7 linked regions of the Homo sapiens genome follow. The protein of the gene in region 5 interacts with the protein of the main gene of each other region in a biochemical or structural test. Each region holds a gene or a part of one and is shown on either strand. Other genes may lie near its edges.

The links.
Region 1: the proteins of LIMK2 (region 5) and ABCC4 interact in a test that uses a peptide from one of them, tested with the Homo sapiens proteins (one large-scale study listed by IntAct).
Region 2: the proteins of LIMK2 (region 5) and SBF1 interact in a test that uses a peptide from one of them, tested with the Homo sapiens proteins (one large-scale study listed by IntAct).
Region 3: the proteins of LIMK2 (region 5) and CTNNA2 interact in a test that uses a peptide from one of them, tested with the Homo sapiens proteins (one large-scale study listed by IntAct).
Region 4: the proteins of LIMK2 (region 5) and FRMPD1 interact in a test that uses a peptide from one of them, tested with the Homo sapiens proteins (one large-scale study listed by IntAct).
Region 6: the proteins of LIMK2 (region 5) and PDZK1 interact in a test that uses a peptide from one of them, tested with the Homo sapiens proteins (one large-scale study listed by IntAct).
Region 7: the proteins of LIMK2 (region 5) and SMCHD1 interact in a test that uses a peptide from one of them, tested with the Homo sapiens proteins (one large-scale study listed by IntAct).

What each region holds. Positions count from the first base shown.
Region 1 is NC_000013.11:95,022,230-95,025,842, forward strand, and holds part of ABCC4 (ATP-binding cassette sub-family C member 4), read right to left. Parts: intron 1-3,613. UniProt on the Homo sapiens protein: ATP-dependent transporter of the ATP-binding cassette (ABC) family that actively extrudes physiological compounds and xenobiotics from cells.
Region 2 is NC_000022.11:50,471,863-50,476,598, forward strand, and holds the start of SBF1 (myotubularin-related protein 5), read right to left. Parts: upstream 3,174-4,736; 5' UTR 2,979-3,173; coding exon 2,924-2,978; intron 1-2,923. UniProt on the Homo sapiens protein: Acts as an adapter for the phosphatase MTMR2 to regulate MTMR2 catalytic activity and subcellular location. Promotes the exchange of GDP to GTP, converting inactive GDP-bound Rab proteins into their active GTP-bound form.
Region 3 is NC_000002.12:79,515,903-79,519,957, reverse strand, and holds part of CTNNA2 (catenin alpha-2), read right to left. Parts: intron 1-4,055. UniProt on the Homo sapiens protein: May function as a linker between cadherin adhesion receptors and the cytoskeleton to regulate cell-cell adhesion and differentiation in the nervous system. Required for proper regulation of cortical neuronal migration and neurite growth.
Region 4 is NC_000009.12:37,653,595-37,657,649, reverse strand, and holds part of FRMPD1 (FERM and PDZ domain-containing protein 1), read right to left. Parts: intron 1-4,055. UniProt on the Homo sapiens protein: Stabilizes membrane-bound GPSM1, and thereby promotes its interaction with GNAI1.
Region 5 is NC_000022.11:31,257,088-31,261,142, forward strand, and holds part of LIMK2 (LIM domain kinase 2), read left to right. Parts: intron 1-1,203; coding exon 1,204-1,339; intron 1,340-2,033; coding exon 2,034-2,143; intron 2,144-2,801; coding exon 2,802-2,990; intron 2,991-4,055. UniProt on the Homo sapiens protein: Serine/threonine-protein kinase that plays an essential role in the regulation of actin filament dynamics. Acts downstream of several Rho family GTPase signal transduction pathways.
Region 6 is NC_000001.11:145,670,364-145,673,860, forward strand, and holds the end of PDZK1 (Na(+)/H(+) exchange regulatory cofactor NHE-RF3), read right to left. Parts: coding exon 3,294-3,497; intron 2,658-3,293; coding exon 2,367-2,657; intron 1,277-2,366; coding exon of another isoform or gene 1,244-1,276; exon of another isoform or gene 1,127-1,243; coding exon 1,073-1,126; 3' UTR 902-1,072; coding exon of another isoform or gene 881-901; 3' UTR 622-880; downstream 1-621. UniProt on the Homo sapiens protein: A scaffold protein that connects plasma membrane proteins and regulatory components, regulating their surface expression in epithelial cells apical domains.
Region 7 is NC_000018.10:2,700,726-2,704,780, reverse strand, and holds part of SMCHD1 (structural maintenance of chromosomes flexible hinge domain-containing protein 1), read right to left. Parts: intron 4,047-4,055; coding exon 3,863-4,046; intron 1,090-3,862; coding exon 895-1,089; intron 1-894. UniProt on the Homo sapiens protein: Non-canonical member of the structural maintenance of chromosomes (SMC) protein family that plays a key role in epigenetic silencing by regulating chromatin architecture.

The sequences.
Region 1 (3,613 bases), on a different chromosome or scaffold from region 5:
AGTGGCCCACAATAATGAAAAGAGAAGCAAAAGCTTTAACAATGACTCAACCAAGCAACTTCTCTAAAATGTAAGATGATACCAAATAATAGGACAGTTCTTTGCCAAGCCTTTGAGTTCCTGAATTCTACCAATTTCTAGCTGAACTAGAAGAGATACAGGTTTTCTGATAAACGTATAATCAGAACATAAAGGAAATGAAATGCTGTCAAGTTTCTCTGTTCCACAATCATCAGTTTTTAGTAGCTGTATCGTATCTTGGTTCCTTGACAGATGCGCATAACAAAATGAAATAATGTCAAGACTTGTGAGCTCTTATCTCAAAACGTGTTTGGGTGAAAAAGGACTTCAAATGTAATTTTTTTTCCCCAAAGAAGAATGTGAAAAGTTTTGTTTGAATCTTTAAAACAGAAAATGTAGCAACTATCTGAGGCTGACACGTGTCACCTGGGTCTCTTAGTCATACGATTCTGGATCTATTTTATAAAACCTTGCTCTGAATATATTGGTGGGTGCTGTCAACAAAGTTATCACTGGAGATAATGGGATTCACGTACAAAAAAGAAAGTGCTGAGACACCTGCCTACATATTAAGTGTACTTTCTTTTTCTCTCACTTCTTGCACACTTGTTACTCCAGAAATATCATTACATATAACACACAATGTACTAAAATGTCACTTAAGGAGAAAATAAATTGTCCAATAATGCTGGAATGCCACCAGAAGAAATCTGAGGCTATTTCCATTATAATGCAAGTGTTCAAAAGTAAGACTTTTCAGGGGATAATTTCATATCATCTCCCTCTCCCACTTTTTTAAGCTAGCCATATTTTGTGTGGTTATAGATTTATGTACTCCAAAAAGGCTATTCTGTAGTGAAACTAAAAACAGCCAAAAGAACAAATAGACATTCACATCACTTTCTACTGCTTGATAGCCTTCCCCAAATAGGCTGCTTCCTTCTGTGTAACCCTCTTGATGTATTTTTTTAAATATATATAAAGAAAGTGTTGTTATTAGCAACTTTAAACCCAAATGGTCTTAGCTTCATGGTCTGAAATACTTAGTCAAAAACAAACTTCCTGTGTATATATTCTTTGATTTGACCTTTCTTTTTCTCTTCTGCTACCAGGTTTTATAACACACTATGGGTAACAGCACAGGTGAGATGAAACATCTTTTTTACAGTGCAGGTGATGAAGGGAGTTGAGATTACTGAACTACTTTTAGCAAAGCCCTCATGTTGTAAGCTATGTCTGGGATAGACAGGTCCAGTCTCAGCTCTCTCCTGGATTCACTGCTGATTCTGGAAAAATTACCTAACCACTCTCTCTACCAGCTGCCTCATCTGTAACATGAGATAACAATAGCTTACGTCACAGGAACTGATTAATGGCTACAAACTACAGGTTGAAAACCTGCTGCATTAGTGTTGGGTGTCATGATGAATGCTGCTCAGAGAAGTGGCCCCTAAGCACACAGAACGTGGAGGTATCGCCCAGCTCGAAGGATGAAGACAAAGCATTTAGGAATCCCTCTGGTGCATCTTTTATCTTTACAGAATCCCAAAGCTGTGGCTGAGACAATTTCAACTGAATGAATATGGTAACCTGGGAGGCAGAAAGGTAGAACTGAAAGATCATAGAAGATGGAGTATGAACACTTTTGAACTGGTGGCTTTGAAAACTTACTCAGGCTGGGCGTGGTGGCTCACACCTGTAATCTCAGCAGTTTGGGAGGCCAAGGCAGGTGGATCACTTGAGGTCAGGAGTTTGAGACCAGCCTGGCCAACATGGTGAAACCCCATCTCTACGAAAAATACAAAAATTAGCCAGGCATGGTGGTGCACGCTTGTAGTCCCAGCTACTCGGGAGGCTGAGGCAGGAGAATCACTTGAACCCAGGAGGCAGAGATTGCAGTGAGCCGAGACTGCAACACTACACTCCAGCCTGGGTGACAGAGTGAGAGACTGTCTCAAAAAAAAAAAAAAAAAAAAAAGTTACTCAGCTTCTTGTACTTTAGCATTTTCATGTGTCAAAAGGGGATAATAACAGCAGTTCAGAAGGACTGTGAAGCTTAAGGGAGACAATGCCATAAGCGTTCACGTTTGCGGCAAGAAGAGTATCAGGTCAGTGAGTATGGGAAACCTTGTCCCTCTTTTCCTTCTTCTCTTGAGTTTGCTCCATTATAGTTCCTCTAATGTAGGTTGAAACTAAGTTCATATTTAAACTCTAACTCATCAGTAAAGCCACCGTAACAGAGCTAGATTTTACTAAAATCAACAGAGCAATACAAGCTCCCGCACGTGGACAAAGGAGAGCAACTGGGCTTTGATTGACATTGCATTCCTAAGATACCATCTGATGTGTTGAATTCAGGCTCAAGACCCTGTCAGTTCATTTTTACTGATGTGTATGGCCCTAATTCAATCACAGTAACTCTCAAGGCCTCAAGTTCATCATTTTTAAAGCCAGTCTAATTTTGGTGTACATAATTGGCATGCATATTGTCAAAGAGTAATGGAGACTTAGAAAGGACTTCTGCTTTTAATATAATGGAGTAATGAATTTCCTCTCCTTTTCCTTTCAGAAACCACTCTGAACATCAAAGATATTCATTAATAAAAAATAAGCTAAATCTTTGTGAAATCAGGAGAGCCTGAATGGTAAAATATCATGAAGGGCTGCCATATGCAACTGGAACCAATGGGGCTGTGGCAAGGCTGAGAAGATGTCTATGAAGAGCAAGCCTCAACAATCATAGGAATTCTCCAGTTAATTGGAGGAGCGCTAAGGTATGTCAATAAAGAATCAATTAGAAACATCTTTGACTGACCTATGTACATTGGTGAGGTCCTGACAGAAGACAGATTGCAATTGCCCAATTCTGTAAGCTAAGGAGGAAGAAAGGCAAAACATGCACTCTCAATTTCACATACACACACACACCCACACACACCCACACCACACACCCCCACACCCCCCACACACCCCCACACACACCCATACACACACACCCACACACACACACACCCCCACACCCCCACACACACCCCCACACACACCCACATACGCCCACCCCCCACACACACCCACACCCACACACCCATACACACACCCACACCCCCACACACACCCACACCCCACACACACCCTCCCACCCCCACACACATACCCCCACCACACACCCATACACACCCACATCCCCTGACACCCACACACACACCCACACACCCACACACCCATACACATACACACTCACATCCCTCCCTGCATCCCCCCCACCACACACGCAGCCTCTCTGGGTCATAAAGTACTTCTACATTAAGCACAGAAAATTCCCTTTAGCCAGAAACAAGGCCCTAGCCACAACTATCCTGTAACTATCTGGTCTAGGAAGAGTTCGTTTTAGTCATAGGTGAGGAGTAGGAATAATAAAAATTATTATTATAATTTTAAGAGTAGTACAGGGCCTGGAGATTATACAAATAAGAAATGAAGTAAGATAAACACATGACAAATGTTGAGCACATAGAGTTTATGAATATAATTCATTCAAAGAAAATGCAGCAGAATGATCAGGCTGTGCATAACAGAGATACAAAAATACAGG
Region 2 (4,736 bases), about 19 Mb from region 5:
ACATCACAGTCAGGAGGAGAGGCGAGGCCATAGGGTGAAAGGTCTTTTTCTCAGATCCAAGGGGTCCAGCCCCTCCTCCCAGGCAGATGCACACTCAGCTGCTGGAGATGGAAGGCCGATGGCCAGGTCAGGGCCAGATCAAATGTGTCTCCTGTTCTCAAAGACACCTCAGCACTGGCCACGCTGTGATCAGGCCAAGAGCCGGGCAGAGGCAGTCTGTCTAGTCCTGATGCCTGCCCCAGAGCACAGAAGGTGATCCCTGACTCACCAGGTGAGGGGCCTGCAGATGGGCCAGCGCTGGCCACCATCACTCTCTGAGGTGAAAGGGTCACGGCCAGCACAGGCATTTACCTTCTCAGGGCCCCTCCCCACCTTTCCTGAGAGGTTTCCAGCTGGTAACCACTAGCAACTGGGATGCTGCCTCAGGCAGGACTCATGCACCCTCAGCACCCTGGTGCTGCACCCAGCAGCTCCAGACAGGATGTCCAGATCCAGGCCAAGACAAGCTATCCGCCAATCCTAATCCCCAACCCAAGAGACCCTGCATCCCGCCCTGAAGTCCTAGCCTGACAGAACAGAGAGGATCCTCTACCCACTCAGAAGTGCCTGTTGTGTCTGTGCCTAGAGAGTTCACACACCTGCTGCTCAGTCACTAATGAAAGAAACTCATCATTTCCAGGGCCTCCTGTGTGCTACTGCTTCACACCTGTGCATTCGCTGCATCCTCACGGCAGCCTGGGAGGTTAGCATGACTCACTCCATCCCCAGATGAGGAAACTGAGGCACAGAGAGCCAAACAACTGGCTCGAAGTCACAAGGCTATCAAGGGGCAAAGCAGAGACAAGTGACCCCCACGCCACACTCCTCTGCTTCTTCCCCCAGCTCCCACCGGCCCTGGTACCTGGCTCTGCCCTCAGCCCATGACCAGGGTCCCAGTCTATAGCCTTGTTCCCCTCAAGAATGAACAAGTCCTTCTAAGGGGTGCCTGGGGCTGCAAGGCCAGCAAGCAGCTGACCAGCTCAACCCCAGAAGGTAGTGGGTACAGGGCTCCACGGTCCTCCAACCCTACTGCAGTGGACCACTTATCACTCCTTCCGGTCACTTAGGGGAAGGGGGGGCACCTTGGGCTCCAGCCTTCTACCCTGTCCTGCGCAAAGGACACACACAAACAGGTGCCTGCACTACGTGTGGCTCCAGCAGTGAGCACACACGTCACAGCCAGCTTGTTGTGGAGCCCACTCTGCCTCTTCTCTCTGCCTACCTTCAACTCCTCACCCCACGGCCACCACGCCTCCCACCTGGCCTTTGCCTGCAGTCTCTACCAACCCAAACCCTCTCCACACTGCCCTCAGGATCATCAGGGTCATTATCAGCTGTTCCTGTAGCCCCCGCCCCAGCCCTCAGCCCAAGGCCCCTCACGCCAAGACAGCCCTCAGCCAGCCTTGCTTCCCTGGATCCTCAGGCACCCTCTGCCCCAGGTGGTAAGGCCTCCTCCATGCCCCTCATAGGTGCCTCGGTGCAGACAGCTCCCTCTGTGGGTCAAGACAACATTGACAGCCAACCTGCACAGTGGGGATGAGGACTATGTGGTCCTAGCAAGCGAGAACTCCCTCTCTAAAGAAAAAGACAGATGCTCATGACTGACGGTGCCATAAGACACACACTTGGATAGACATGAGCAGAGAGGAGTGTGTGCTGAGTAAGAGGGCACTGAGGAGGGGCTGGAGACGAAGAAGATGCTAAAGAGGCTTCAGGAAGTGTAGGGGGGTGTCCAGCAGAAGAAACACAAAAAAGAGAGAACTCCAGGTCCTTGGTGGGGACAGTGACAACTGGACTGACAAAAAACAGGGTAACTGGGAAGGCAAGCTCAATCCCACCTCCAGGCTCAAGATCCAGCCCCTGCCTGACCACACAGCCATCCCCACACACTGCCAGTCTGCAGCTGGGATCTGACAGCCTGAGTGCCAGTCCCAGCCTCTCTGAGCCGGCTCAGGCCAGGCAGTCAGCTTATCCGCGCCTAACTTCTCTACAGATGGGGGCAACACCAGGGCAACCCCGGTGGGCTGCTGGGAGGAAGAGGTGAGATCATGTACACAAAGGGCTGTGCGGGGCCTGGCACACCAAGCACGCTCGCCAACGCTGCTGTCTCCAGGCTGTTGCTGATGTCATCGTCAGGCTCCGTTTTCTCCTACCTCCTGGGCTGAAGAGCTCTCAGACACGGGCGCTGACCCCACACACAGACCTCCTGGGCATGGGCACCGACCGCCACGCTGATACCCCACCCAGGGCTTGGCGTGCAGGGCCTGGACCGTCAGGCGAGTCGCCAGGAATGCTCTTCTCTCTACTCTCGACGCTTCCTCCTCAAATCCTCCCAGTTTCAAATCAAACACCGCTTCTCCATGCACCAAACCCGAACTCCACCCCCTCTTTGCACCCCGCCAAGACCGCCGGGGGCTTCAGACGGAGCACCAAGGTCAGAGGCGGGCTGGCGAGCCGCGGGTCCGCGCCCCTGGAGCCACTAGAGCCACAGCCGCCCGCAGCTGGCCAAGGAGAGAGCCCGTCCCACCCCAAGGAGGCCGGGCAGGCCGGGCCCAGCCTTCTCTCCCTGCCGCCACCAGGCCCGCGCGGCCACGCCGCCCCCAGCGGACGCCCATTCTCCCCACGGGCTGTCCGGTCGGCCCTGGCCTTCAGTCCCCGCCCGGCCCCCGGCCCCGGCCCTCAGTCCTCGGCTCCCCCGACCCCGGCCCTCAGCGCCCAGCCCCCGGTCCTCGGCCCTCAGCGCCCGGCCCTCAGTCCTCGGCCTCCCGACCCAGCCCCCAGCCCTCGGCCCCCAGCCCCCGGCCCTCGACCCTCAGACCCAGCCCCTGGCCCTCAGCACTCGACCCTCGGCCCCCGGCCCTCAGCGCTTGGCCTCGGCACTCACCGCGCGGGTGCGGCCCGAACGCCACCAGCACGAAGTAGTCCGCGAGCCGCGCCATGGCGAGGGACGCGGGGCGGCCCGAGGGGCGCGGGCGGGCTCCGCGGCTCGGGGACTCGAGGACGGCGCGCTCATGGCCCGGCCCCGGCCCTGGACCGCGCACCCCGGACACCCCTGGTTCGCTCCGCGGCGGCGGCGGCGGCGGCGGCGGCGGCCCAGGTTCCCGCCGCCATCTTCCCAGCCAGCCGGCCCGCCCGGGCGCGCCGTGCGCCTGCGCGCTGTCGTCAAGCCCTGAGCGGGCGGGGCCTGCAACCGCGCATCTCCATTGGTCCAGAGGGTGGGAGGGCGGCTCCCGAGAGCAGCGCCCCGCCCATCGCTGACCACTCTGGGGCCCGAGCACCGCCCCTCGGGCCGGGCACCTGGACTACGGCTCCGGCGGGTCTGACGCCCTGACCCGGGTCGGCTGTGGTGTCGGCGGGAGGCATGGGCCAGGACCACAGCTGCCCTCGCCGTTGGGACTCCCCGCACAGGAGCCCGAACCCCACCCCTGGGCCGTCCCAATCTGGGGATCGGGTCCCCAGACTCCTCGTCCCCCGCCCCTCTCTGTCCAGCGGGAGAAAGGCGGGAGAAGCCTAGGCGCTGCCTACCGGGCCCCCCAAACTAGAAGTCAGAGGAGGCGCAGGGCCATCACCTCAGGGGCTGCCAGCCTGGCGATGGGGAACAGAGAGAGAATTCAGGCCCTGCCCTTGGGGTCCCAGGCTGAAGAGCCCCCATCTAGGCCAAGTGAGACATTTAACACAGCTTAAAAACGGCACGCTCATGTCCCCCTGTAAAGAGCAAATGTTCTAAGCGTGTGAGGCACATGAGGCCACGGAGCAGGGGGCTCTGGGAAAGCTGCATCCCCCAGGATCCCTGACAGTGCCCACCCCTCTCAAGGGCAGGGCTGGCCAGGGCCACCCCTGAAGTGGCTCAGGGATGAGCATGAGCCCAGAGCAGAACATGCTGGGAGAGAAGGTGCAGGAGCCAGCCTGGTGCAGCAGGGAAACCCCTCTGAGCACAGCAGGCCAAGGTCTGTTTTTTGTTATGTTTTGTTTTGTTTTTGAGGCAGAGTCTCAATCCGTCACCCAGGCTGAAGTGCAGTGACACCATCTTGGCTCACTGGAACGTCCGTCTCCTGGGTTCAAGCAATTCTCCCGCCTCAGCTTCCCGCGTAGCTGGGATTACAGGTGTGCACCACCATGCCCGGCTAATTTTTGTATTTTAGTAGAGAGGGGGTTTCACCATGTTGGCCAGGCTGGTCTTGAACTCCTGACCTCAGGCCATCCACCCACCATGGCGTCCCAAAGTGCTGGGATTACAGGCATGAGCCACCGCCCCCAGCCCGAAGGTCTGTTTTTTGTTTTTTGTTTGTTTTTGTTTGTTTGTTTTGAGACAGAGTCTCGCTCTGTCGCCCAGGCTGGAGTACAGTGGCGTGATCTTGGCTCACTGCAAACTCCGCCTCCCAGGTTCACATCATTCTCCTGCCTCAGCCTCCCGAGTAGCTGGGACTACAAGCACCTGCCACCACGCCCAGCTAATTTTTTGTATTTTTAGTAGCGACAGGGTTTCACTGTGTTAGCCAGGATGGTCTCGATCTCCTGACCTCGTGATCCGCCCATCTCGGCCTCCCAAAGTGCTGGCATTACAGGTGTGAGCCACCGCGCCTGGCCCTGAAGGTCTGTTTTTAAATGAGTTTGGCTGCTGCAAGAACTGGCCAAATGACTGGCATCCAGTCTCCATCCATGGGCAGGAGCCAGCCCAAGAGAATGAATGGAATCAA
Region 3 (4,055 bases), on a different chromosome or scaffold from region 5:
ATTACTTCATTCTAAATGCATAAATGCCATATAGTCTTTCACAAACATTGGCATGGCCGAAACAAGCCAACCACACACTGGGAGAGTCCCTAAATAGTGGTAGCAACTGACTTGTACCTTCAATGTAGGAAGAAGTTTCAAAATGAAAGAGAGGGAAGGATGGAGAGATAAGAAAAGACAGGTTACTTAGTCCCTCACAGTTTGCCCAGAGACTGTGAAGCTAAATTTGCAATTTTATTGGGAAAGGGAAAGCATATGCCACTGAAGGTGAAGTTTTTTTTTCCTTATGCAGCAGAAGTTTATGTTTCAAAAGAAAAAACAAATGGAACACAATGAAAACAAATCATTTGCCTTGAAATTTTAAGAAAAAAACACATGTAGAATTATAGAATTTTATAGCTAGATATAAGTCTAAGTCACTCAAAAGGCAGATAAAATAAATAAGTGTTGGAGAGTTTGAGGCTTATTTAATCACATAACAAATTAATTAGCTGGTTGAAAACCTGGAGGGGAATCCAGTTGCCTTGGTTCAGTGTGCTTATAAAATTATAATCTCTAGCTCAATGAGAGCATTGAGCACAGAGCAGGTATTTTCAAAAAATACCTGTTGAATGAATTCATGCTAGGTAATATAATAAAAAAAATACATGAAAGGCATAAGTGCAGTAGAGAGATGAATTTAGACACAGATTTATTTTTCCCCAAGACTCTTTTTTTTTTTTTTTTTTTGAGACGGAGTCTTGTTCTGTCGCCCAAGCTGAAGTGCAGTGGCACCATCTCGGCTCACTGCAGCCTCCGCCTCCTGGGTTCAAGCGATTCTCCTGCCTCAGCCTCTCAAGTAACTGGGATTACAGTCGCCCGTCACCATGCCTGGCTAATTTTTGTATTTTTAGTAGAGACAGGGTTTCATCATGTTAGCCAGGCTGGTCTCAAACTCCTGGCCTCAGGTGATGTGCCTGCCTCAGCCTCCCAAAGTGCTGGGATTACAGGCATGAGACACTGCGCCTGGGCTTCCCCAGGAAATTTGAGTCTTGTATACACTTCTTTATGCCACTTCCACATATTAGAAAAAAAAAACATATTTTGTGAAATTACTCTGGCAATTATCAACGCCTGAAGAAACAGAATGAAGTGGTAAACTCTAAAAGACTGTAGGATACCCTTTCCCGGAAACAATTGAGTACAATTAGCTCTTTATAAAGTAGTTAAGGGACATTGCTACTTCCTCACTGAAAGATAGATTGATGATATTTAACAACTGCTTCAGGCCCTATGAATTTAAGATAAACTTGGAAGACTGAATTTTCACCAAATGCTTACAAATAAAACATGGGAACATCAGATCCTCTGGTGATTTCTGGAGTCCTTGTGGTTTCTGGGTGGGATGTGGAAGAACAACTGACATAGCTCCATCAAGAGTCCATGGTTTTAGTTCCAAAACATCAAGGGGCCATAAAAAAGATATTGGACCTACTGCAGATACATAATGAACAACATAAACTCAACTTGCAGAATATGAACATCTCAGAAGCTTTCTATTAATTTTCTATTATGGCTCTGTGGCCCTTGAGACCATATACAACTCAAGGACTTTTTTATCTCTAGCCCTCTGGCATGTCCACTCATTTAATGTAGAAACACTGTAGCAAGTTAGGATCTTATTTAATGTATCTCCATCTCAATACATCCCATAAATGTATTACCTGGCTTCCCCCAAAACTGCCTAGCAAACAAAATAGCCCGATGTCTACAAGTAGCAACATACTGAAAAATCAACATATGATTTATATTACTTTTTTATCCATGCTCTAGTTTTAAAAATTATTCATTGAAATTTACATATAAACTTACTTTAAAGCAACTAAAACATAGATTATAGTAGACATCGCAGCAAAAATTTAGAAAACCCCTAATTGAACAGATAGTTATACATCCTTCAGCTCAAAAGAGAAAACACAATTAATTCATTCTGTCTCATCCTTACTCCACCTCCCTGTTTGGTCACCACCCTCACGTATGGGGAACATACCTGCTTTTTCACTCCTGTTAATGCAAGTTTTCCTAATACCTGAAATGTAATAGTCTAATAGTTGTGTACGCAGATAAGGCCTATTAATAAAAGGAAAAATAAAATAGTGTTCAATAGTAAAGCCCTAGAAAATTAAGGTGTCTGAAGTTAGACTATCACTATGTTTTGTAAAATGTGTTATGAGTAATAATTTCAAAGAGGTATATAATGCAAATTTATGGCTGAGTTAGAATTCAGCTCTGAGGTAAAAATTCACTTATAAGGAAAATAAAAATGTCAAAAATCTCTGGTAGTATAATATAAAGCTGACTAGCAGCAATACATCTGAAAATGTATGATTTAGATTTGCTGAATTTTTAAAACATCAATTAAGAAAGATCTCAACATAAAAAATAAAACTACTACAGTCTATGGTCTGTTAGTTTTTAGAAGTATATTTACATTAGTTTTTAGAAATATATTTGTGTTTATGACTAATATATCTTAAGATAATATTCAGGAGGACAATTTTGTATATTATTTGAACTACAAAACAGAAATATATGAGAAACATTTTACTATTTGGGAGAAAACAATGGAATTGTGTCTATTAAAATGGGTTAAACATGAGCATGATAAATACTGATACTTCAAACTTGTGGGTAAAATTTTCTGGAAATCCATTTTTGAATAAAAGAATTCAATTCATATCACTTATGCTGTTGGATAAAGATTTTATGGATAAATTTTTCAAAATAGTTTATGAACCTCAACTAAAAACAAAGGTATGCCAACAGATGTAGCCAGTGAGCATCTGTCTCTCCACACAGAGAGTATACTTAACCTGCTCCATGCAAATTCCTTCCTAGACTCTCTATCCTCATCACACATTAGTCTCACAGCCACAAAACTGAAAGAGCACCATCCATTTAGAATTTATTAATAATCTCGGACACCAATGAAAAGGGGCTTTTGTAATTAGGAAAAGTAAATAAGCCCCTGGAAATACAATTACCCTAACAAGTACTGGCTTCACATAGGTCAAAATACAATAATTTTAGTTATTATACAACGAGATATAGTCCTGGAATATTCATGGGATAAGGAAAAATGAGGGAGAGTTCTAGTAACCATAATATTAAATCTTTATTGTTCAGCAAAGGTCAAGTTTTCCCTCTGCCTTGAAGTTAAAAGAAAAGACCTAAGAATATTCTGGGTCCTCACTATGACACCGATCATGGATTCCATGTCTCAGGATGGGGCTTTAGGTGAGATAAAGAACTGAAACTACCTCCATGGGTAGCTGAACCTTCTATGTAATGAAATGGATCCCACACTAGAAGTTGTCTTAACCCAGTGATAGTATAATTACTCTGACTGTATGTACTCTACCTTTCAATACATTCACCTGTATGCCAAATCTTCCAGTAAATAGTCTCTCTAATGTTCTTCAAACACACCATGCCTTTTCCTCCCTCTCTGCTTTTGTTCCAGCCCACCCTGCATGAAATCATTCCCAGGAGTCTCTGTCCAAGCTCCAGTGCTACTACCAAATATAATATTTTCCCAGCTACACAGACACCCGTCTTCTTCCCAATTCCTCTAGTACTTACTTGCGCTTCTGTCTTTCTAGTACATAATCATATATGGTCTTGGAATGTGTTTAAGTGATTTCTCCTAATTATAATAATGTTTACTTAATACATGTTTTGTTTGTACCAAGTACTGAGCTAAACACATTTAACCTTTAAAGCAAGCCCATGAATCAGAGTCCCTTACAATTTTCATTTTATAGATGAAAAAACAGATTTAAATTGTACACAAGGACATGATCCTCCTAAGAACTAGAGCCTGTACTCACATCTAAAGCTGTCTCCAAAGATCTTGTTACTTGCCACTGTGAAATAGGACCTCATGCAAATGCCTGTTCTCCTCAACTAGACTGTAAGCTGAGGTCAAAGAGAGTGTCTTTTACTTCTTTCTACTTTCTTGGAATGCCTCACACCACTCAGCCTAGGGTTAGGCAGGTGTTAAGAGCTCTGAGGGA
Region 4 (4,055 bases), on a different chromosome or scaffold from region 5:
TTGAGAAAGAGACCGTCTATTCTTCCATCTCCTATACATAAAATGTCCCTCACCCCAGGGAGAAAGAAAGAGGCCAAGTATGTATCTCCACAGAGACATCATCTTCTAACCAGACCAGGAACTAACAGCACATTCACAGGTACCAGGGGAGCCCTGGACAGTCTGGAGTGGTGTCTTTTTCCAGGGAAAGCCAGAGAGAACAGAGACTGCAGCTACTAAATAAATTATTTTTATAAGAACGAATAAATGCCATCCTCGTCTTTAATAATTGTTTTTCCTTTTGCATCCTTCTGAATTCTACATTGGAGCAAAGAAAACAACAAAGCAGTAACTCAGAAGCTTCACATGTGAATAGTTACAAGTCAGCATCAGACAGGGGTTTCAACTGGCAGGGGAGGTGGGATTGTTATCGTTGGTTTTAATACAAGCTGTAGCCTACACCCTATATTCTAGATACTCAAAGAACAGGAAGCACAGCATTTCTCAGCTGCCTGCACATCTGTCTTCTCTTAAGTCAAAAATCTCAGAGAATGATGCACTGTTGCATCCAGATGAATTCCTCTGAAGCTCTTTCCATTCAGGATTTTGAAATTTTGCCATATCACCCTTTTACTGAAGCAGCTGAGGTTCTCAGATCATTCCTTGAAAGAGGTCAAAAGAACTTTTAAATTTACCATCTTATCTTTTCCAACTTGTAATTAGTGTTTTTTTTTTTCTTTTTCACCAAAACAACTAATATTAAGGCCACATACCATTTAGCAGCCAGCTTGGGAAAGGATTGGTGGCCCAAACCACTTCTAACTGCTGGCAAAAAGGTCTCTAAACATCAGATGAGTTCCTGAAAACACTGTGTCACTTAATGAAAATAATGGCTTCTGCCCTCATATCAATCTGCCAAGCACCTAGTCCGGCTTCCCACTGTCCTTCAGGCAGATAGTTAACTGAAAAAAAAAAAGTCTCAGATTTGCAAACCTGTATAATGTAATCTGTAATTACCAAAACAAATTTAATCCACTGTTAGTACTGCTTCCATGAACATATATTAAGTTTAGTGTATATCTCAGGATACAGTAAAAGTACAACTACAATAGCTGTGGATAAACCAAAATTTTATACATTGATTGGTGTTAAGTGCATAGGTATATTTGGTGTTTGAAAGCTTTCTATACTGATCTTTTTTACAGTAAGGAACGCTTTTATAATATAAAGAATGATTGTCAAAAGCTTCAAGGTTCAAATTTTACACAGTATATTCCTTTAAAATAGGCACACTGAAAAGCTAAATTCAAAACTCAGACTCATCTTAGAGGTTGCATCAACCCATCATCAAATGAAGGAGCTACATCTTGAGGGATCAGAATGCCACGAGTGAGTTCAGCTGACAACCATATGCAACCCCTAAGCATCAGCCTCATGTTTCTGGCTTGACTCAAACCATTTCAGATATCGGGAAAATCACAGGCTTTTGTCAATCCGATACAGACCATTATCAAGCTTGCATTAGGGCTAGGCTCTGTGAAAAGGGTTGTGGGGTAGAAAGATGAAGGACATTGTGCCGGCCCTCCCAAGGGCTTTCTATGAGCTGTGGCCACATACACAAGTGACCGCACACAAAATCCTTCAAGGCTGACAGTAATGACTTCTCCATGAGAGGTACCAAGTATCAGGGAACAGTGAAATCCCTGGGATGAGGGGATCTGGAAGACAGCTTCCTAAGGGTGGTAGGATTTGAGCTTAGCCTTCAGGCATAGGCAGGACCACCAAGGCTAAAGCACATGCTAGACAGAGGGGCTAGACGGGGGAGCAAAGGCCTAGAGACCTGAGGCTAGGGGGATTAAGAGTTGGGAGGCTGGGCACGGGGACTCATGCCTGTAATCTCAGCACTTTGGGAGGCCGAGGCGGGTGGATCACAAGGTCAGGAGTTCGAGACCAGCCTGGTCAATATGGTGAAACCCCGTCTCTACGAAAAAATACAAAAATTAGCCGGGCATGGTGGCAGGTGCCTGTAGTCCCAGGTACTCAGGAGGCTGCGGCAGGGCAATTGCTTGAACCCGGGAGGCAGAGGTTGCAGTGAGCCGAGATCGCACCACTGCACTCCAGCCTGGGCAACAGAGCAAGACTCCATCTCAAAAAAAAAAAAAAAAAAAAAAAAAGAGTGGGGACATGGTGCAGAGGAGGGGGTGTGAGAGAAAGGATGGAGGTAGCCCATCATGCCTGCTGGGCTGAGGACTCGGGACTTCAGTATCCATACAGGGAAGACCCACTGAAAGGCTCTAAGGAGGAGCATGATGAGATCAGAGCCACACTTTACAGTACAGAGCACTGAAGCCTGATGCTCAGAGAGAATGGAAAGATGGGGGCATATTTGAGAGAGATTTTGGAAGTAAAAATAACAGGGCTTGGTCACTGTTACTTTACAGGGCAAGGTCACTTGGTCCTTACTGAGTAGATTTCAGTAAGGAGGGAACAAGGGAGAAGGCACAGACAATTAGCCTCCCCTGCTGTAGTTTCCAGCTTGGGAGGAGGAGGGGATGATGGCTGAAGGGTACCCCGCAGCAAGCGGGCACAGCCAGTATTTTGGTACCAGGGCTGGTGGCACCAGGGGCTCAGCTCCACTCTTGCTTTCCCTTTATGCATCAATGAGCACCTCCGGGGGCAGGGAAGGAGGGAGGGAAAGAGATCCTAAAGAAGGGTCTACTGTGCAATGTCCCCGAAGTTGTAGCAGGAGCAGCAGCAGCAGCAGCTCACCACACCACTCGGCCTGATCCTGCAAGTGAAAAGTGCTGTGGGTGGTCATTTCTTCAAAATTCCTAAAATATATAATTCTGTATTGAAGGGGCAGAGAGCCTGCTCTTGAGTCTCCCCGATAACTGTGAGGATAATACCTGTGCACACAGACTGTCTAGTTGTACATGCACCAAGCCCCTTCAGGCCTCCAGGCCTTAGCATTTGCTGTTCCTTCAGCCTGGAACAGTTTCCTCCTTCTCTCACCCTCAATTGAACTTTTATTTGGTGCTTACTACATAACTGGCACTATTCTAAGTACTTTACATGTATCGACTCATTCAGTTATCCAACAACCCTCTCAAGGAGGTACTGTTATTATCCCTAGTTTACAGATGAAAAAACTGAAGTTCAGAAGATTAAATAACCTGATAGTGGAATATATTTAGTTAGCCAAGGGGCAAGTATTCAAATCCAGGTGGTGTGGCCCCAGAGTCTGCATTCTCATACACAGAACTACCCTACCTCTTACAGATACAGAGCTGCTGCACTGACCCTCACCCAGCTCCAGGCAAGACTGGCTCCCTCTCTCCTGTGGCTCTCACTGGCTCAGATAGGCCTGCCCTGACCACCCTCCAATGGAGTCCCACTCCTACTACTTTCTCCCACATTTCCCCACTTATTTTCTTCCCAGCCTTTGGCACAACCTGTAGTTACCTTATTTATGTAATGACTTCTTCATTATTTTCTCCAACTAGAATATAAACTCCAGGAAGGTAGAGACCTTGCCTTTTGTTCCGATGTATTCTCGAGGCACCTAGAACAATTTTCTGGCAGAGAGCAGGTGTTCTATGAACAACCATTGATTGAAAAAATGAAGGACAGTACCATAGATGCTACATAGTGCTACACAGGGTCATAAGGTATTGCAATGTTATTCTTCACCCTCTGTCTTCTTTTTTTTAGAGATGGAGTCTCACTCTTTTGACCGGGCTGGAGTGCAGTGGCCTGATCATAGCTCACCGCAGTCTCGAGTGAGACTCAAGTGATCCTCCCACCTCAGCACCTCAGCCTCCCAAGTAGCTGGGACCACAGGTGCACACCCACTACACCCAGCTAATTTGTAAATTTTTTGTAGAGATGGGGTCTCACTATGCTACCCAGGTTGTATCCTATTCTTTGACCACTGCAAATCTAAGACAGAAGGGAGCCAGTACCCCGCTCCCAGCTATATGGACAAAGCTGATATATTTAGAGCTGTGTCTGTCAAATCTGCCCCCCTCCCCCACCAATCTGGGTCCTTGAGTACATAGTGATAAGCTTGTGTGAGG
Region 5 (4,055 bases):
TACTATGTTGCCCAGGCTGGTCTTGAACTCCTGGGCTCAAGTGATCCTCCCACCTCAGCCTCCCAAAGTGCTGGGATTAGAGGCATCAGCCACCCCGCCCAGCGAGCTATGGATCTAACATGTACATCTTACACAGTGCTAATAGAATGTTGGGTTTCTTCCCCAATATTTTATTTTGAAAAAAAATTCAAATATATAGAAAAGTTGAAAATGTAGTTCAAAGAACACCTACATACCTTTCACATAGATTCATGATTTGTTAATGTTATGCCACTTTGTATATATCTCTCTCCCTCTATCTGTATACTTTTATTTATTTATTTTTGCTGAACTATTTCAGAGTAACTTAAAGGCATCTTGATTTTACCCTTGAACAGTTCAATATGTTTCTGCTAAGAATTCTCCTATATAAGTCAGATATCATTACATCTAAGAAAATTCACGGCAATTTTACAATATAATATTATAGTCCAAATCCATATTTCCTCAGTTGTTCCAAAAAATGTTCATGGCTGTTTCCTTTTTTAATCTAAATTTGAATCCAAGTTTGAGGCATTGTATTTGGTTGCTGTGTCTCTAGGGTTTTTAAAATCTGTGCCTTTTCTTCTCCCCATGACTTTTTAGAAGAGTCAAGACCGGTTATTCTTATAGAATAACCCACATTCTAGATTTGCCTGATTAGTTTTTTTATACTTAACGTATTTTTGGCAAGAACATTACATTGGTAACGCTGTTGGTGATGGGTCAGTTTTGAAGAGTGGAGATGATTAAACTGCTTTTGTTCATTGAAGTATCTGTCAAGACCAGAGATCCTTAACTGGTGCCATAAATAGGTTTCAGAGAATCCTTTATATATACACCCTGTCCCCCACCTAAATTATATACACATCTTCTTTATATATTCATTTTTCTAGGGGAGGCTTCTTGGCTTTTATCAAATTCTCAGAGGGCCCCAAGACCCAAAGAGGTTATGAAACACTAGTCTGTCCACTGAGGCAGGCAACACAGAGCTGGTTTCTGGGGCCTTGTTCAGTCTGAACCAGCTTCCCTTGGGGAGATAGCACAAGGCTGTAACTTTGCCCCATCTTGGCTTTGGATCAAAGAGGACTGTCCATTTTGTTGTCATACCTAGGAACCAGGGACAGCTTATGTGGCCTGGTTCCAGGGATCCAGGAGAATTTCAGTTCTTGTCTTGCCTTTCAGGTGTTCAGAATGCCAGGATTCCCTCACCAACTGGTACTATGAGAAGGATGGGAAGCTCTACTGCCCCAAGGACTACTGGGGGAAGTTTGGGGAGTTCTGTCATGGGTGCTCCCTGCTGATGACAGGGCCTTTTATGGTGAGTGAATCCCTTCATATCTGCCCCTCTTGGTCTTCAGAGTCCATTGACAGTGCTTCCAGTTCCCTGTGGCCTGTTAATCTTTTAGTCTTTCCATCAGCCAGGGCATCTCCCTTTATTTATTCATTCATTCAACTAGCAGGTATCAATTGAGCACCTACTAAGTGAAAGGTAAGATCCTTCCCTCAAAGACTTAATAGTTGAACGTTGGGAGTGGGAGGAGAGGCAGGCAGAGAGGAGACACAATATAGTTGGATAAGGACCTCCAAGGAGAGTGTTACAGGCTGAGAGGAGGATATACTTAGGTTGTCTTTAGGGAATCAGAAAAGGAGACTCTGGAATAGGCTGGCAGAGAGAGGGGCTACCTCCTATACCTGCTCTGGACAAACGACTTTAAGCATAGTGACAGACTTGCCAACCCTGTATTGGAAGAACTGATCTTTTTTAGTGGGGATGATTACTTCTGGGGATTTCTTCTCATAACTGAGACCAAAACAGTTTTGTGCAGTCTCAGAAATGACAGGAGGTACCAATCTGACACTTCCTTTGGAAGCTCTAGGGCAGAGAGTGAAAGAGTGGATTTTGACGGGGGCCTTGCTTGGAGGTCATTCACCCACCCCTGTCCTCACTCCAGCAACAGTGATAACTCACTTCCTTCCTCCCTTTGTACACCCTTCTCCCCACCTGCTCACAGGTGGCTGGGGAGTTCAAGTACCACCCAGAGTGCTTTGCCTGTATGAGCTGCAAGGTGATCATTGAGGATGGGGATGCATATGCACTGGTGCAGCATGCCACCCTCTACTGGTAAGATAGTGGTCCTTTGTCTATCCTCTCCCATATAAGAGTGGCTGGCGGGGAGGGACAGTGGCAGGGTGAGTTGGGCAGAAGGAGTGTTAGGGTAGTCAGAGCATTGGATTCTTACCACAGCAGTGCTCTTAACCAGCTCTTTAACTTGTAAGCAGAATGATTTACACATGTCTCTACCCTTTTTCCTTACCAACCTTGAAAATGTCTTCACTCTGCCCTGCAATCCTCCCAGTGGGAGGCACTCTTCAAGGACGATCCCAGAACATTAAAGTCAAAGACCCCTTAGAGCTCACCCTGTCCAACCACCTTGGTTGATAAAAGAAGTCAGCCTGGGGCCCATGGAATAGAATAGTACAAGGGCAAGGTTCTCATTGTGAGTCAAAGGTAGAGTGAAGAGAACCCAGACCATCTCACCCCAACCCAGGCCAGTGTTTTTCCAAATATACCACTTGCTGCAGATCTAGCTCAGCACCCCCAGTCCCAGCCCACCCTGAGAACCCAGGCTCCTCATTCTGAGCAGCCAGCTAGAATCATGACAAAGAGGGTGGTAGTGAGACTATGGGTACTGTTGCTTAAAGCCACATGGTGCAGTGGTTGCTGGGGGGCTTCTGTGTGGGACTCTAGCATCTTATTCCCCCCTGTGCCCTCTCCCCAGTGGGAAGTGCCACAATGAGGTGGTGCTGGCACCCATGTTTGAGAGACTCTCCACAGAGTCTGTTCAGGAGCAGCTGCCCTACTCTGTCACGCTCATCTCCATGCCGGCCACCACTGAAGGCAGGCGGGGCTTCTCCGTGTCCGTGGAGAGTGCCTGCTCCAACTACGCCACCACTGTGCAAGTGAAAGAGTAAGTATTTTGAGAACCCTTCAGCAGGGGTTCTTGAGCAGAGTCTGTAAATGGGCCTCAGAGGGCTTAGACCTCCAAAGTCTCATGCAGAACTCCCTTTATTCTCATCTCATATCTTTCTCCTGGACCCCACTATGCTGTAACCGTACCTGGGCCTTGGCACTTACTGTTCTCTCTGCCCAGGCTACTTCCTACCCGATACTTAAGGCAAGAATCACTCACCTTTCAGGTGTCAGGTTTCAGGTCATGTTTGCTCTTTGAAATCATCTGGCTTGATTATGTGTATTAGTTGTTTATCTTCTATCCCCTCCACTAGAATGTAAATTCCAGAAGAAACTTGCTGTCTTATTCAGTGCTGCATGCCCAGGGCTTGGAAGAGTACCTGGCATATAGTAGGAGTTGATTGATTATTATTTTGTCAGTCGAGAGAATGAATGGAGAAAATGTGGTCCATGGCCCAAAAGAAGTTAAGACCCTATCCTAGATTCAGGCCAGAGACCAGATGGAGAAAGAGTCTGTGTCTATCTAATACCAGTAATGTCGTACCTCTGGCCGCTTACCATGTAAATATTGATTGTGTATCTACCATGTGTTGGACACTAGGCTAGTGCTTGCACAGCAGGTGAAAGATACTAGAGTTTGGGAAGTCAGGAGGAGCTAAGGTCTGTTCTACAACCTTATTAGATGAAGAGGAGAGGGAATTGTGTTCAGGGCAGAGGGAGAAGCATTTCTCCAAAAGTAGGAGTCTTAATCATGTCTGATGTAGGTTGAGTGTGGCCAGAAAAGGGGCTGTTAAGTATAGAGGGCCTGGATTATGAAAATCCAGCAGATCCATTGAGAGTTTAAGCAGCAAGGTGTTGTGACCAAGTTAACATTTTAGAAGGATCACTGGTATGGAGGTTGGATTGGAGAGGGGAAAGCCTAAAGGTATAGAGACTAGTTAGGAAGCTATTGTAGGCTGGGCATGGTGGTTCATGCCTGTAATCTCAGCACTTTGGGAGGCTGAGGTGGGAGGATTGCTTGAGGCCAGGAGTTGAAGACCAACCTGGCCAACATAGCAAGACC
Region 6 (3,497 bases), on a different chromosome or scaffold from region 5:
GGTAGCTGAGCCAAACACGTAGGATTTCCGTTTTAAGGTTCACATGGAAAAGGTTATAGCTTTGCCTTGAGATTGACTCATTAAAATCAGAGACTGTAACACTTTTGCCTTACGTTCATTTTATCAAGCATAGCTTGGTATTTATTATGCTTGTGTGATCTAACATCAGTTAGCATCCCACACCTCCTCATCTGATCCTGCCCCATTAAAATAACCAAGAAAGAGGTTATCTGTTCTTTTCCGGGAAAGGGGTGGTATGCACCTGAAATAGATTTTACCAAAAGAGAGATTTCAGGTATGTCATTTTTTCTTGATTTCCTGTGAACTTAGTATTATACCCTACTTTCAATTCGGTAGTGATGTTTCCTTTTTTTTTTTTCTATCTGCCCCTCACGCTGTGGGGTGAAACCGTGAATAACTTAACTGGGGGAATAAGTCACTTGTGAAAGGGAAATGTTGAAAAATTTTTAGAACACTCAGACATGCAATTTAAGAAAATTCTGAATTTTATTACTAAGGTCTTATTCTGTACTTTATTGTGTTTTGGGTTTCTAGAGGCAAATGAAGGTTAAAGCATAAAAAGTGAATCCAAAACAAAAGCACTATCAAGCATACTCAAAAGGCATTTGTTAATGGTATTTATTCTAGCAACCACAACATTGTTACAAAAGCACAATTTTAATAGGCTTATCTGCTAAGATGCTTTTATAAGCAGCTGTCACCTATACAGAGTTATGAATCATCTTTGGTGCTCAAGGAACCTGTAGAAGTAAGAGACATCATCATACAGAGAAATGTAGTTAAGTTAAGTTGAAGCTTGGAAAAGATCACATGAAAAAAATCTAGCTCTTGCCTTATCTCTTCCTAAGTTAAGCATAAATTAGCCGTCTGCAATAGCCGCCTGTAAGACAAATGATAACAGAAGACAATCACACATGGTGAATGGTTTCCAGTGGAGTTTTTCTTCTAAAGAGACAGTAAACAGGTCACAACTCATTCCTTGAGAAAGGATTCCTATTAAATACCCAGAAACAGCTATCAAATAAACAGCCAAAGCTATTACTTGTTTTCATCACATCTCTGTATCTTCAGAATTGGAAGAAGAATGTGAGGCTGTACTGTGGGCCTGTGTATAAGAAAACAAAGAATTTACAAATGGTAGAGTAATGAAAGAGGGATGATCTATTCTAGAGTTGCATGACTTAAGTCGGGGAGTAGAGTCACTCACTAGAATTTCTTTCTTTCACAGCATGCAGTTGACAGCAATTGTGTAGAGCTGATAAATCAAGTAAAAAGTTTATCAGTATTGTAATGGGAACCCCCAGAAGAGCCTGAATCAGATGATCTGGGTATGACTAGAAGTCAGGTGACCTGAATTCTACACTTGATTGTTTTCAACTTGCTGTTTGACACATTAACAAATTCCTTAATGTCTGTGTATATTTCTTTTTTATAAGACTAGGATATTGACTTCCTAAAGAGAAATTACAGAATTTTTAAATGACAACTAATACAACTAATAGTATTTATTAAGCATTCCTGAATACAAATCAGTGGGCATTGTGTGTGTTCATTAAACTGAGTTTATTAAAATGAATATTCCACCCATTAGCAGAATTAATATAATGGAAAGAAGAACAACATTGAATTAAACTTTTTTAGAGTCTCGGCTTTGCTATAAATTTCCTTTATGAACTTGGATAAGTCAGTTTACTTTTCGACCTCAAGTTCATCTATGAAAAATTGGGCAAAAATATAAAACTGAGACTTACCAAGAAATTTAATCCAAATATATAGAGAATAATATAGAGAATGCTTAATCTTTCCTAGTAATAAAACTGGATTACCTGTCAGTTGTTTTAAACAATATTGTCTTTAACCGTCACCACTTACATGCTCACTATGAGCCAGCCACTATTCAAAGCACTTTAATATAGTTAATCTTAGTTAACATGATCCTGATAACAATCCTACAAATTATTCCTGTTTTATGGGTGGGAAAACTGAGGAACAGAACAAATAAATCCATTTCCCCACAGCTGACAAATGACAGAACCAGAATTCATATCTAGATCATCCGATTCAGGCTCTTTTGGGGGTTCCCATTACAATACTGATAAACTTTTTACTTCTTGATTTATTAGCTCTAGACAGTTGCTGTCAGCTGCATGCTATGAAAGTAAGAAATTTGTTGTTCTTATACTGCCTCCTGTCCTCTACAATAACTTGATTTGTTAGTTATCTTTACATTTTCATTTTCTAGTTTTAAAAAAATCTGTGGCAAACATAGACATTAAATATACTCATAGGGACTGTACCCATACTCTAGTAAATTAGATCACGAAAAGAAATAGGCCCCCACTCACCCGTTCTTTTGCCATGTGCGAGTCATGGTTTGACTCCACCACTATTCCTTCTTTAGAATCTGGAGGGGTGTCAAGTGGATCAGCCAGGGAGGAAACAATAGGGATTTTCTTAGCTTGGAAATAATCATAGGCCTTCTTTCCACAGACTAGAAGTGTGACATTCTTCCCACTGCTCTGGATTCTATCCACCACCTTCTCATAGGGTTCATCTAGCACATTCACCCCATTCACTTCAATGATGACATCCTCATCCTCTAGCCCAGCCAAGTCAGCAGGACCGCCCTTCTGTACCTGTGAACAGAAGTTCTGAGTTATCAATTTCAAACAGAGAAGGGGACATCAGACTAGCTCTCCTTAAGAGAATAGATGAGGAGCTCAAGAATTTATTTTTAATCATGTTATTATTTCTCCTTGAGGTATAGAAGTTGAGAAAGGTGTTCTAATGCTTTTATATTTATGAAGGCTATAACTTCCATATTCACATGATTAGTGGTATTATAAATAGTGGTTCAGCATCATATGTCTTCTGGGATGAAGGGGGATAAATAGGTCCCCCTTCTTCACTCCCAACTTGAAAGCTTTAGGGATTCTTATCAGTCCCTACAGGGTAAGGGGCATTATGCCAAATGCACAGAAGCAAACAAATATGACTGCCAATCAGGGTTGATAGTGACTGTCAACTAGAGTTCAGTCAACTCACACTGTTTGGAACAGATGTTTGGGAAACAAACAAACGTGAGCTTATGATGTACTGGTAGCTAACCTAAAGGGTGTGGGACCATGACAACATTTATCTGAACCCAAGTGAGACCCCTCAGTGTGTGCCTTCAATGGAACCTCTCTACTAAGCCATCAATGGGTGGGAAAAGCTGAGACTATCCTAATTGTGGCTGTGTTTGTTGGGCTGCTGGAACCAGATTACCATACCTCTTTGATGAATGAGCCTGGCAGACCCCGAATCGCATTTAAGTGAAAGCCATAGCCATTTTCACCTTTAGCCAGCCTGCAGAGTTTAGGCTTATGATCTACTTCCTCTGTAGTATCTGGTGGACTTGAGACTTCCAGAGAAGTGGGAGTAGGAGCTGGAGCCTCCTTGACAGAGCCATTGGGCAGTTCTTGACTTTGATAGTA
Region 7 (4,055 bases), on a different chromosome or scaffold from region 5:
TATCTCTCATTTATGGAGAGAACAGAGAGCCTTCTACCTTGTAATTATCTGTGTAAACCTGAGCCTCTACCCCTTTCAAGGTCCACACAAATGTTACTTCTTTTCCAAAGTATTTAACGATCTGCTCTGTTCTTCCAGCCCACACGACCAACCAAAGTAAAAAAAAAAAAAAAAAATCCTCTCCTCTTCTCTCCTTCTAACCTGCCAAAACACTATTAATCCTTTCTTTCCATTGCATTGATCCACTTCTTACCTATTATTTATGCTTACACTATCCCCATTGCTAGGATATAATATCACCAAGAGCAAAGCACATCTCCTATATCTCTGAATTCTCCACCACACAGTCAAAAGGTGCAGTAACTTACTATGTCAGCAGATGCTCAACAAAAAAATACTTAAAAATCATTACTTAACGCATTACATTAAAAACAAACAAACAAACAAAAAACACTGAGATCTCCATGTGAGTAAAGTTTAGTTTAGGAAACCATAAAAACCTTGTTAATTGAGCCTCTGGCAATAGTTTTTTTAATGCTATAATAAATTATGGAATTTAAAATCAGTTTGTCCTTTTCATTCTTACCTAGCTCCTGAGGAGCCAATATTTGCATTATTTGTTGTTACTGTTGTTAAATTTTAATACATCTAATTTAGTCTCAACTTCTACTAAAAATTGAATCTAAAAATAAGTTAAATTTCCTTAGAGATGATGGAAGACACTGATGTCAAACAGGCCTGTGAAGAGTCTGAATAAATGTTCTTCATGAAATGTGAGAATGGGAAAAAAAGAAATTTTTAAAAATAGCTTATTTTCTATACATGTGATTCTGCATATGTGTTTTAAATTAAATTAAAAATTATAAGAAAAAAGTGACAATAAGTTAAACCTACCAGCTGTCCTGCTTTGTATATCTTTCCATCCCATTCTATTGCTGCATATGTTGCCCAGGGACCTTGCTTTTTAGAAGGAAGATCAGGACGTGTAATTACTCCCTTAAAAAGTGTAAATTTTATTTGTTTATCATACTTCTCATGACAGTCCTTCAGCCACAAAGCAAATTCTCTGTCAATTTTCATTCGCTGTTCCTGTAGAATTTTAAAATGTTTTATGAAATATAGCTACTAGCAAACAAATATAACCATAAACATTTGTCATTCATTTTATTTTTTTCCTTTCATATACTCCAATTCAGAAAACCTAATAAAAAATTAAATATTCTGCTGGATCCTTCCTCTGTACACATTTAGGATATTTCAAACAAATGCATTACCAAAGAAGAAAAATTTGATATTATTCTTAGAACCAAGGTATCCCTGGTCAATATCAACAATAAAACCTTCCTTTCCGCCTTTAATTCCTAGGATACACTAAAAACTGATGAACCCTTACTGCCTGGGAGGAGAACTAGCTAGCTCCACAAAAGGGATGAGTGGAGGCCTTCTAACTGTAAACCACATTCTCAATGGGACGATAAAAATCTCATTGTGTATCAAGTACTTTATAAACGTGAATACAATATACAAACAGATAGATGGTAAATCTGCAGTAGTAAAATTTCATTGGGGAAAACAATTGAGAAAAAGATGCCAAGAAAGACTCCTTATGAGGGTGATAACGAAAAAAGGTTGAGAAACACTGCTATGCAAAATGTACTTTTCTTTTTAATTTTCTCTTTTATATATAGAGCCTATCCAAAAAATAAACTCATAAAACTGAAGTGTTTTCTAATAATACTTAAGAAGATGTGTTTTTGCCAACCATTCTTCACCCTGTTGGGAGAGAATACAGAAATCTGTATTCAAGCATAAGGTGCTATACACTTGTTTGATGCCTGCCTCTAGGGCAATGAGGAGGTAAGACAATCTCCCCATTACATGCTTTCGCAGAGGACAGTCTGTAAAGTTACAGAACTCCATTCCTTCTTACGTACCTTATACCATAATATACCATTTCCAAAGGAAAGTAAGGCAAAATTAAAAATAATTTCAGCCTAAGTTTTTGATGCTTGCTGTCAAGAAGGATACTATCTTAGTTATTAATAAATTTGATTTTTTTAAAGTTATATGAATGAAAAAGGAAATATATATACATGGTAAAGACTCACAGGTCCAATATGGTATACAGTTTCTGGGAAATTGCTGCCACACTTACTCCTATAACTAGGTACCAACTCTTTCCCAAATCAGCAAATCATTGTTGTCAGTTTGCCAGCTGACATGGAGATTAAATTAGTAACTAGGAACCAGAAAGTCTGACAACCAAAATGTTAAACTACCCTTCTAAAACTCTCAGGATGGATTCACTATCAACCAAACAAATTACCAAATGCATTAATTCCAGACACTCAGTAACAGTCAAAGTACAATTCAGAAGGCATGTCAAGGTGACAGGTAACCTAGGGGAAAAGTATGCAGATATTCACTTTATAATATTCTTTCAACTTTTCTGTGTATTTGAACATTTCCTTCTTTTTTTTTTTTTTTTAAATACAGAAGGTGTCTCACTGTATTGCACACGCTGGTCTTGAACTCCTGGCCTCAAGCCATCCTCCTGCCTCAGCCTCTCAAGTAGCCAAGATTACAGGTGTGAACCATTATGCGCAGCTTGAATGTTTCAAAATTAGAAAATATATATTTTAAAAGTACAGTGTAACAAAGGAATAGAATTAACTTATTCTGGATAGCTTTTGAAAACACCCACTGCTCAATAAATGTTGGATAACTAACACCATATTATAAATGAATTCTAAGTGTATTATAAAGGAGTAGTAACTCATTTTGATAAGGTCTTTCTCGGTGTATAATTCTTAAAAGTGTCCTAATCTTCTATGATTCACAAGCTTTATAAGAGCAAAATTAATTTCAACATCTTACAGGACTGACTGACTACAAATACTATGTACTATGCACTGTATTTATTGCCCAGCAATAAATTGATAATAAAATCATCTATTTCTTGGCAATTCAACATTAAACTACTGAAAGAGTAGTATCAAAAGTCTCTGAGGTCTGTTCACAGAATACAAGTACACTAGTATACTAGTTTCACTCAACTTTGTAACAAATTTCAAAGTGAAATCATTCTTGTTGTATTAATCAATACATGTATTTTAATACTGATCAATCTCAAATCACCTTTTAGCTCAAAGTACTTCACAGTTTTACCCCATTTTTACCCTCAAGACTAGCTAAAAATTGCACAACTAGGTTATTAATATACAAATATAGCCCTTAAAGCAAATACAATTGTTCATACATGTTCTCATTAAGATGCTTCTGTGGCTTCTACTATGTCAAGGGCTAGATATTAAGATCTTGGCTGGGTGCGATGGCTCATGCCTGTAATCCCAACATTTTGGGAGACCAAGGCAAGTCGATCACCTGAGGTCAGGAGTTCGAGACCAGCCAGGCCAACATGGTGAAACCCCATCTCTACTAAAAATACAAAAATTAGCCAGGCGTGGTGGCACGCACCTGTAGTCCCAGTTATTTGGGAGGCTGAGGCGGGAGAATAGCTTGAACCTGGGAGGCAGAGGTTGCAGTGAGCTGAGATTGAGCCACTGCAATCCAGCCTGGGAAACAGAGTGAAACTCCTGTCTTAAAAAAAAAAAAACAAAAAAAACTAATGAAGATATGTAAATTCTATCCAAACCTAGTCTTTACTAGGTAGGTTTAGTCATTACTAAAAAATTAGCTTTAAATTTTTTAGTAATGTGAACACTTGACTGCTCATAAAAAAATTTATACATCATAGTCTTTTGATGCAAAATATCAATAAAAACCTACACTGCTAGTGTCTTCTTTTACTTAAAAATAAAACATTTGCAAATATTCACAACTTTATATTTAAAAATCATACCTGTCCATTTAAAATCCTTGTAAAAAGGGTGTTCTTATCTTTCAATTTTAGCTCAAGATCCATAAACGTCAATTTATTTGTGCTGACCTGGAATTTGTCATTAGTGAATAATGCACCAGATATCCTATTGTAGCATTCAATTGGTGCAAGCCCTCTCTTCTTAGGAGGAGTACACCAGTCAAAGCTTGAACAG